Regions from separate parts of the Homo sapiens genome. Here region 1 is linked to region 2. The links come from fine-mapping of genetic effects on gene expression. A gene starts in region 2. The other region holds a variant in brackets. All regions are shown on one strand. Distances are between the middles of the regions. Region 1 overlaps ITGB3 (integrin subunit beta 3). Region 2 holds the start of ITGB3 (integrin subunit beta 3).

Region 1 (5,482 bases), 55 kb before region 2:
AAGCATGTTTATATACATGTTCTTTTAAGTTAAGAAAACCTCATCATGAGAAAAATAAAATAAAATTGCACTGTGGCCTCTCAGATTAAAGACTGAGTTAAAATGAGGTTGTCCAACCCATAGAAGAACAGGCCACACGTGCTGATACAACTGACCCATCATTCCATCCTGGCACTTATTCCCAGCCAACTCATGGGAATAATTCCTTCACAAGGCAGCCAAGAGGTAGAAGGTAAATACAATCAGCCCCATGGATGGATACAGCACACCAAGGCACAGGGCCAGGTATGTGGAGGTGCTATGGATGAGGGACAGGAGGCCGGAAGCATAGGGCCAGACCTCTGGCTCTACAATAGCACTCTCTCCCTTTGAGGAAAAGCATTTGGTCATGAGAGACATCCCCAGCTCATAGCAAATGTCTACAGCAGTGAGGGTGTGGAATTAGGAGGTAAAGAGATGGTGCTGGCCTAAGGGTGACACACTTCTTCTAAACAAACCTCCAGAGTAGAGCTGCCAATAAGGCAAATCTGAAGGGTTGTGATTATGAACTGGGAGATGCTGGTACATCCCCCAGGCCATGAATGACCCCTGAGTGGCCCAGACATCCTCACTCCCAACAGGTCAAAGAATTAGCTTGCAAGGACTTCCCTTGCGAGAGAACCATAGCTGGGTTGAGGGGATGGCAAAAGGCACAGGCAGCTCTAATAGTTCAGCTCTCCCTGACTCCTCCTTCGGCCTGAGGGAGGGGAAAGGAGGCAGAGGTACAGATGACCCGGGCTGCCAAGCCCAGCAGTTCCTACCATAGCTGCTGAGAGTCAGGCCTGAGAACCATAAATTTATGAACTCAGGGTAGAGCCAAGGCTTGGTGTCCCTTCCTCTGGAATGAGAGGCCTCAGCCCTGCCCTTCTCTTCAGGGACAATGGCCTGATGAGGAAAGCTGGCTTCTCACTGAGGTAATGAAGAACACCTGCTCAGCTCCATAGTCACCCTCAAGCTAAGCAGGAAGAATCCCTGCAGGAGGCATTCTGGGACAAAGGCTAAGGAGCTCAGCTTATCAGGACACATCACAATTTTAAATTACACACTCCCACACACAACACACACACATAAACACACAGACCCCCACATACACACACACAGACCCACACTTCCACATACTGACATTCTCCCAACCTACCCCACTCTGAGCCCCAAATCCCTCCCCACAAATACTGTCCTCTGTAAACATGATGGCAGGGACTCCTGCAATCGTGGCACAGGCTGATAATGATCTGAGGATGACTGCTTATCATTAAGTGCCCCGGTACGTGATATTGGTGAAGGTAGACGTGGCCTCTTTATACAGTGGGTTGTTGGCCTGTGGAGGAAACAGAATAGCATCTTACAGTGACTTCCTTAAGTCCTTCCCTACCCTGAATGTTTAAAATTCATCTCAGAAGTTTTCCCAAGGCACCGTTCTCTGGAATACATCATCAATGAAACAGAATAATGTTCATTTTGCTCACACTTTAGTTCTTGGCATGGGAATTGATAGGAAATAACAGGAGGAGATGAGGTAGAATGCCATCCTGCCACCGTTTCTTTTTTTTTTTTTTTTTTTCAGACAGGGTCTCATTTTGTTGCCCAGGCTGGAGTGCAGTGGCACAATCTCGGCTTACTGAAACCTCCACCTCCCCTGACTCAAGACATCCTCCCACCTCAGCCTCCCAAGTAGCTGGGACTACAGGCACACACCACCATGTCTGGCTAATTTTTGCATTTTTTTGTAGAGATGGGGTTTCTTCATGTTGCCCAGGCTGGTCTCAAACTCCTGAGCTCAAGCGATCCACCTGCCTCAGCCTCCCAAAGTGCTGGAATTACAGGCATGAGCCACCACACCTGTTCCCTGCCACTATTTCTAAGGAGCTATATTCAGCCTATCACTCTTCAGTGATTCCACAGCATTCGGGGATAGAACCTCTCCTATTTCACCCCTGTGTCCCCGTCTCTTTTGCCCTTCTCCTATTTTCCATTCCCTGTGACAGTGATAGGAGATGTGGACAAGGGACAGAAATGTATCAGGTGCAATTCAGAACACAGAGGAAAGCTTTTGCTCAAATAATTATTAATTTGTTTTCATCTAATCTGGCCAAGCACTAACCATGGCCAGGCATGGTGGTTTATGCCTATAATCCCAGCACTTTTAGGGGCCAAGGTAGGAAGATCACTTGAGCCCAGGAGTTCTAGACCAGCCTGGGTAACAGAGTGAGACCCTGTCTCTACAAGGGAAAAAAATACAAAAATTAGCTGGCTCGGTGATGTGTGCCTGTAGTCCTGGCTACTTGGGAGGGTGAGGTGGGAGGATCACTTGAGCCCAGGAGATGGAGGCTGCATTGAGCCATGATGGCACCACTGCACTCCAGCATGGGTGACAGAGCGAGACCCTGTCTCAAAAAAAGAAGGAAGGAGGGAAGGGAAGGGAAAGAAAAGGAGAGGAGGGGAGGAAGGGAAGGGGAGGGGAGGAAGCGTAAAAGGAAGGGGAGGGGAGGAGAGGGGAGGGGAGGGGAGGGAATGGGAGAGGAGGGGAGAGAAA[G/C]AGAAAGCACTATCCACAAACTGTCATGTTATCAGGAAAAAGTAAGACCCTCACTAGGTTTCCCAAACTATTTTCCAACAGAAAGTAACAAATCCTATAATGGTAGCTTCAAGAAACACATTCTTAGCCAGGCGCAGTGGCTCACGCCTGGAATCCTAGCACTTTGGGAGGCCGAGGCGGGTGATCACGAGGTCAGGAGTTCGAGACCAGCCTGGCCAACATGGTGAAACCCCGTCGCTACTAAAAATACAAAAAATAGCTGGGCACAGTGGCTGGCGCCTGTAATCCAGTTACTTGGGAGGCTGAGGCAGGAGAATCACTTGAACCTGAGAGGCCAAGGTTGCAGTGAGCCAAGATCGCTACACTCAAGCCTGGGTGACAGAGCAAGACTCTGTCTCCAAAAAAAAAGAGAAAGAAACACATTCCTGTGGGCCTCATAGGTACAGGATGTTCCACACTGTTCTAACAGAAACATCTCAGTTTCTTGGGACCCTTGAGTATAAAGCTCTGGGGTCAACATCAAATGGGAACAAACTTGCAGCCTAACTCTGGACATTTGGGGAGTCAAATAGCCATTTGGAGGGTCGAGGAAAAAAGTTGAAATGTGAAAGAAGAGCCAAAAGAGAATAGAGTAAGATTAAGTATATAGAAAGTTCTCAGTAAATGCTTATTTAATTGGAATAAATCAGGATAAAAGAGTAGAGTCTGATTTGGAAGTAACCTTTTATTTTATTTTATTATTATTATTATTATTATTATTATTTTTGAGACCGAGTCCTGCTCTGTCACCCAGAGCAGGGTGCAATCTCAGCTCACTACAACCTCTACCTACTGGGTTCAAGCAATCCTCCTGCTTCAGCCTCCCGAATAGCTGGGATTACAGGCATGCACCACCACACCCGGCTAATTTTTATATTATTAATAGAGACGGGGTTTCACCATGTTGCCCAGGCTGGTCTCGAACTCTTGAGCTCAAGTGATCTGCCCACCTTGGCCTCTCAAAGTGCTGGGATTACAGGCACGCGCCACCAGGCCCAGCCTGGAAGTAACCATTTATTTGAGGAGAAAGAAGAGAATGAGATGGAATGACATCCTGCCACTATTTCTAAGAGGCTGAAGGAAGCTGAAGGACAAGGGGATAGTGAGACCATCTCTCCCAGTTTCCAGAACAGAGGATAATGGAAAGACGATGGTACTGGCTGAACATGACCACCCAAAGCATCTGCTGCTTCCACTTAAGAGTCTCAGACCAATGACTTTAGAAAACGCCCAGCCCCGTCTCTTACTGTGTCCCATTTTGCTCTGGCGCGTTCTTCCTCAAATTTAGCGAATTCTTTTCGGTCGTGGATGGTGATGAGGAGTTTCCAGATGAGCAGGGCGGCAAGGCCAATGAGCAGAATGGCCCCCATCACTGAGAGCAGGACCACCAGGATGTCAGGGCCCTTGGGACACTCTGTGAGGAAGAAGCACAGAGCAGGGCGGTTGTGAATGAAGCAGGAGTCACTTGAACTGGCTATGAAAAAGGTGTTCTTGACAAAGTAACTAAGGTCCTTGAAGGAAATAGGACAGTTTTCAAAAATTAATTTTTTTAAGGAGACAATCATTAGGACAGCAATAATCTGCACTGAGTGGCTCAAATCAGAAGTCTAGACCTGGTAACCCCTAGACAGAACCCAGCCACACCTTTGTGTGGGGGTTCACCCAAGTGTTTATTTTAAAAATTAAACACAAAGAAGAGAACACCAGACACTGGGACCTACTTGAGGGTGGAGACGGGGAGGAGGTGGGGATCGAAAAACTACCTATGAGTCACTATGCTTATTACCTGGGTGATGAAATAATAGGTACACCAGACCCCCATGACTCACAGTTTATCTACGGAACAAACCCACACATGTACCCCTAAAGCAAAAATAAAAGTTTTTTAAAAAATTAAAAATAAAAAGCCGAGTGTGGTGGCTCACACCTGTAATCCCAGCACTTTGGGAGGCCAAGGTGGGCAGAGCACCTGAGGTCAGGAGTTTGAGACCAGCCTGGCCAACATGGTGAAACCCCATCTCTACTAAAACTACAAAAATTAGCCTAGCATGGTGGCGAGCACCTGTAATCCCAGCTACTTGGGAGGCTGAAGCACAGAATCACTTGAACCTGGGAGGTAGAGGTTGCAGTGAACCGAGATCACACCATTACACTCCAGCCTGGGTAACAGAGCAAAACTCCATCTCAAAATAAATAAATAAATAAATAAATGAATAAGAAATAAAAAATTGACTTTATTGGCAATATTGAATAATCAGGAGATTCTCCCCCTAAAATTTCATATTAGTCTCTTTAAAAAGAAAATCCAGGCCAGGCCCAGTGGCTCATGCCTATAATGCCAGCACTTGGGAGGCCGAGGCAGGAGGACAGCTTGAGTCCAGAAGTTCAAGACCAGCCTGGGCAACATAGTGAGGCTCTGCCTCTACAAAATTGTCTTTTTTAATTAGCCAGGCATTGTGGCATATGCCTGTAGTCCCAGCTACTCAGGATGCTGAGGTGGGAGGATCGTTTGAGCCTGGGAGGTCAAGGTCATAGTGAGCCATGATCGTGCCACTGCTCTCCAGCCTGGATGACAGAGGGAGAGACTATCTCAAAAGAAAGAAAGAGAGAAATACAGAAAGAGAGAGATTCTTATATTCCTGCAGAGCAGCAGTTAGCTAGAGCTGAGGAGGAGCTGCTCCTTTTAGTTGGAACTCATGTTTTCTAGTTTACCAGAATCCCCACCACTCTCCCTTCTCTCTCCTAGAGGAAGGCAGTGTGACTTGTTGGTGTGTCTGCGCTCCTGTGGATGTTACAGCCAGACTCCCTGGGTTTGAATCCTGACTTATCACTTAACTTTTATACATGATCTTTGGAAAATTACTTAACCTT
Region 2 (5,239 bases):
CCCCAATCACAAGATTAATCTGTGAACAGATCGCCTAAGGATTTTTTTTTAATTTTTAGTAGAGATTAGGTCTCACTATGTTGCCCAAGCTGGTCTCGAACTCCTGGGCTCAAGCAATCCTTCTACCTCCACTTCCCAAAGTGCTGGGATTACAGGCGTGAGCCACCGTGCCTGACCAGATATCTTAAAGGATCTTTTAATGCAAACTTACGTATGTCAATGCAGTGGAATCCAATACACTCCAAAGTGAATTTAGAAGACTGTGAATGTGAAAATTTTTTAATGACAGCAAAAATTGTCGTAAGTGCATGGAAGCAAGCATCTCATCCTGGACAGGACAAGGATACCCTTTTTTTAATTATGTATTTATTTATTTATTTATTTATTTATTTTTACTGAGTTGCCCTGGTGGATTTCTCCATTCCCGGCATCAATAGCCAGCAGCATCTGACCCAAGGCTCCACATGTCCCAGGGCAGAATGCTGGAGATTCTTATTTCTGTGTCATAGTCATCAGACTGCTCACTGCACGCTAACACTATCAGCTGATCTGTTTTAGTCCCAGTCACATAGGAAATGCAGCAATAACCACTGCAATATTCCTCTACATATCAACTGTAATCCCTCCTTCAAGATACCCTTGGCCGGGTGCGGTGGCTCACGCCTGTAATCCCAGCACTTTGGGAGGCCAAGGCAGGCTGATCACGGGGTCAAGAGATCGAGATCATCCTGGCCAACATGGGGAAATCCCGTCTCTACTAAAAATACAAAAATTAGTAGGGCGTGGTGGTGCGTGCCTGTAATCCCAGCTACTCGGGAGGCTGAGGCAGGAGAATCCCTTGAACCCGGGAAGCGGAGGTTGCAGTGAGCTGAAATCGCGCCACTGCACTCTAGCCTGGCGACAGCGAGAGTCCATCTCAAAACAAACAAACAAACAAAAAAAGATATCCTTGCCCTGTCCAGAATGAGTTATACGTCTATACATACACAGAAGAGTCTTGACGGGAATCACTAAAGTATTTTCGAATAGTTTATCTTTGAAGTGAATTTATCAACAAATCTTCCCTTTTTAAAATAAATCCTGGCCAGGTGCGGTGGCTCACGCCTGTATTCCCAGCACTTTGGGAGGCTGAGGTGGGCGGATCACTTGAGGCCAGGAGCTCCAGACCAGCCTGGCCAACATGGTGAAACCGCGTCTCTACTAAAAATACAAAAATTAGCCGGCCGTGGTGGCAGGCGCCTGTAATCCCAGCTACTCGGGAGGCTGAGCCAGAAGAATCGCTTAAACCCAGGAGGCAGAAGTTGCAGTGAGCCGAGAACCCACCACTGCACTCCAGCCTGGGCGACAGAGCAAGACTCCGTCTCAAAAATAAATAAATAAATAAATAAATAATAAAATAAAATAACAAATCCCTTCTGCAGGGTGTAGATTGTTTTACGAGTACTACAGTTTTTATTAAAAATACTTACATGCACTCTTGTGTCATCCTCTGAGGCAGAGGCGGCCCCAGCAGACCAGGAGCCAGGGTTTCTCTCCAGCCCAGGCAAAATCACCAAGGACTCAGAGAGGACCACGGGCAGCAACCCCGGGCTGTGCCCGCTCCATCCCTCCACCTGTGTCCCCAGTACCAAAGAGGCCGAATGCCAATTGCCCTGACGGCTGACGGTGTGCGCAGCAGCCAGAGACAAAGCCAAGGATCCCACCGGCCCAAGGGAGCCTTTTCATGGCTCCCCGAATACACTAGAGATTTTTCGGGTGCAGGGTCTGCCCTGGGAGCAGAGGCACCGCTGCCACCTGGGGACACTGGAGGAGGCAAAGCCCTCATCCTGCTCCAAAACAACCCCGCAGGAAGCCAAGTTGAAGGTAAAAAAAAGAAAGAAAGAAAGAAAAAAGGAAAAGAAAAAACCTTCTGGAGAAAGCGTAACAGGAGAAATTGGAAATGTGGGGAAACTGGCAAACCCGCGCGCGCGCACGCTCTCACCCAGGAAGCTACAGCGGCATCCCTCTGCCAAGGCGCGGGAACAACCCCCGGAAGCCCCACCTCGCCTTGGCTCCTGGGCCAGTCGTCCTTGGCCCGACCAGGACCACCCGCGACGCGCGCAGCCCCGGGTGAGCGCGGGGCTCAGAGATGCGCCCACCGCACCGTGCGCGCCGCGGCGGCCGGGAAGGCGCTCAGCCTGGCTGATGGCTTCGGCGTCTCGGAGGACCCGCTCCCAGGCACCAGGCACCTCTCAGCCCCGCCACCGCCGGGCCAGGAAGGTCCCCAGCTCCCGGCTCCGACCGCGCCAGCCAGGACACGCGCATTCCCAGCGCAGACGCGCGGGACCAGCCCTCCGCGTTTGCCGGCTCCAAGTCCGCAACTTGACCGGGGCGCAGATCCTGGGGCAGCTGCGACGCTGCCGAGCCGGAGCCTCACTCACCTCCTACGCCAACGCCCGCCAGCGCCCCCAGCGCCAGCACAGTCGCCCAGAGCGGCCGGGGCCGCGGCCGCGCTCGCATCTCGTCCGCCTCCCGCGGCGCTCCGCCCGCCCCACAGTGGGCGCCGCCGCCCGCGGCCGCTTTTCCCGCAGCGGGAGGGGAGGGGAGGGGACGCGGTGGGTGGGACGCAACGGGGCGGGCCGCGGACTCGCGCTTCCTCCCCTCCGGCTTCTCTAGATCCCCTCGCGCTTCTCTAGACCCTGCGCCTGAGAGGGAGCGGTGGGAAACTATTGCTCCTCTCTCGCCGCCTCCCTCGCCTCGCCCACGAGGACCCGCCTGCCAGCCGGGTCGTCAGCGCATCCTGGTCCCGGGGGTCCGCGACTGGGCACTTGGTGTGCTTAGAAAGGCCAGGAGCCTGTGGCCCCTCTCCGGACCCTTCCAGTCCCGCCTCCTGGGAGACCCTGTTTCGCTGGATTCTTGGGACACATTCACCCACTACCTCGAGTTTCATTCATTCACACTTTAATTCATTTGACTGGCAAACATCTGCTGAATGCCTTCTCTGAACCGGTTCAGTCCTTTATTATTCACTAATTTTTTTCTTGCCTTAGTTTGGTTTTCCGGTAGACTACCTACCTGTTGAGGGCAAGACCACATCCCAAGCTTGCGTAAGCAGTGATAGGTCCATGAAGAGCCTCGCCCTACAAACACTTGCTTGCACCTAGCCAGTGTCTGAAAACGTTTCAGAACACAGCATATTGCCTCCAAATTCACACTCACAGGCTTTGGGACTTTATCTATTTTCCTCAAAGGCCTCCTGCCTGACTCCCCCAAACTGTGGCCCCTTATCTCCCACCCCAATCTTTCTTTGAGTCCCTGGGTCTTCCCCAGACTTAAAACCTCTGGAAGCTCAGAGAGGCAAAATACTATGGCTATGAGCAAGAGGGCACCAGGAAGTAGCTGGTAGTGCAGCCTGCCTCAATGGGTAGTCCTGATGGTGATAAAAACAAGGCCAGAGGCATCAGTTCCCCTTTAGGGCTTTCAGAGTGGCCCTGGGCTTCCCTACGCAGCGTGCCCACCCTCTTCTGAGACACACAAGATGCCAGACAACTGGCCCTGACCCATCTCTCCAGCCCATCTCCCACCCTAGTCCAAGAAGATACTTGTCATTCCCCAATGCTCCATGCCTTCCTATCTGACTGATTTTCCTTCCTTTTTCCACTTGGAAAATTCCACTTATCTTTCAAAACATCTCAGATGCCATCTTTTTCCATGTAATTTTTTTCTGACAATCCTCCACCTCCTGCCCCACCCTCCCAAACACTAGGACCTTAATAGTAACACACATCAGCTGAAGCGTCACTAGCAATTTGCAAGGGGAAAAGCCAGCTCTGCAAAGGGTACTTGGGCCCTCTGACCTGGGTTTTCAGGCTGAAGCTCCATCTACCTCCCCTGGCTGCAGAGGGCCTCTAGGCCAGAAGCATTTTAACAGCAGTGTCAATGCCCTGGAGCAAAGTTCAGGTCACATGGCCTGGTTACATCTCTGCCTAAGTATTTAGTTATCTGCTCCATTCCCATATATATAAAACCAATCTCCAGCCACTTAGGTGTCTCCTTAGCCTATCCCTGCTGTCAGCAACCACTTGGGGTGGGCACTGGCCTCAGCAAGTATGCTAAGTCCACAACCCTAGCCCAAGCCCTAGCAAACATGACATAATTGTGCAAGTGAGTCCATCCTGCACTCCCAGCCCCAGGGAAGGCAAAGGAGCTAGTCCATTCACATTTAGTATAGTAATTGATGGTTGTGTTTACATTTACTATCTTGTTATTCGTTCTATCTTTTTGGCTGGTTTCTCTGTTTCTCTTTTTCTGCTTTCTTTTGGGATAATTTTTTTTTCTCTACTGGCTTCCTAGCTACACCTCGTTTGCATGTGTGTGTGTGTGTGTGTGTGTGTGTGTGTGTGTTTGCTCTAGGTATTACAATATTCCTCCTTAACTTATCATACAGTAGCCTATGTTGAATTAATATTGAACAATTCTATGTAAATTGTAAGAACCTGTAAACTAAAAATAACATTATAAGCCCCCCCACAACTGTCTGAACTAACCCTTCCTCTCAGCCAAGGGCATTCCAAAGTTAATCTGAAAAACTAGTTCAGACCATGATGTGAAGCAGGTTTGGGGAAGGTGGAGGGGGGGTGGTGGTTGAATATGCCTCACAGCTGACCAGCATTAGCATCAACACAAAGACCTTAAGGCTGATAGAATAGACTCTCTAAGTCTGATAAGAAACATTAACAGTCTATTCTGTCTGAAGCCTCTGGCTTCATCTGCATGATAAAAGTTTGGTCTCCACAACCCTTTATCCTAACTCAGACATTCCTTTCTGTTGGTTCTAGGTCTTTAGATAATAACACTTACAACCAATTGCCAATGAAAAAATCTTTGAATCCGTCTCTAACCTGGAAGTCCCTGTGTCAGATGTCCTGCCTTTCTGGACTGAACCAATGTTCAATGTACATGTATTGATTGATGTCTTTTGTCTCCCTAAAATGTATAAAACTGAGCTGTAGCCTGACCACCTTGGGCACGTGTCTTCAGGACTTCCTGAGGCTATGTCATGGGCATGTGCTTAACCTTGGCCAAATAAACTTCTAAATTGATTGAGACTTGTCTCTTCAAGTACATTAAAGATGGTCTGCTGTTTGCTGTCTCCATCATCTCTGGTGAGAAGTCTGCCATCCTTTATATTCTTGTTTCTCTTTCTTCTCCTCCTGGATTTTTTTCCCTAACTTTTTATTTTGAAATCATTAATACTTAC

The links. PIP is the estimated chance that this variant, and not a neighbour inherited with it, causes the effect. A credible set is the group of variants that fine-mapping cannot tell apart.
Region 1: its variant is the best candidate, but not a certain one, in a credible set for the expression of ITGB3 in whole blood (INTERVAL, PIP 0.60).

What each region holds. Positions count from the first base shown.
Region 1 is chr17:47,306,014-47,311,495 of GRCh38, reverse strand. It overlaps ITGB3 (integrin subunit beta 3), which reads right to left. Exons shown (of 15, transcript NM_000212.3): 14 at 3,859-4,025; 15 at 1-1,357. The coding sequence ends at 1,292. All of the region lies in intron 2 of EFCAB13-DT (EFCAB13 divergent transcript), which reads left to right. Among named protein-coding and RNA genes, the nearest start is that of EFCAB13-DT, 15 kb to the left of the region's middle. The variant G/C (reference allele first, on the strand shown) is at 2,573.
Region 2 is chr17:47,251,122-47,256,360 of GRCh38, reverse strand. ITGB3 (integrin subunit beta 3) reads right to left here and starts at 2,534. Exons shown (of 15, transcript NM_000212.3): 1 at 2,421-2,534. The coding sequence starts at 2,499. RefSeq lists a silencer at 2,480-2,739.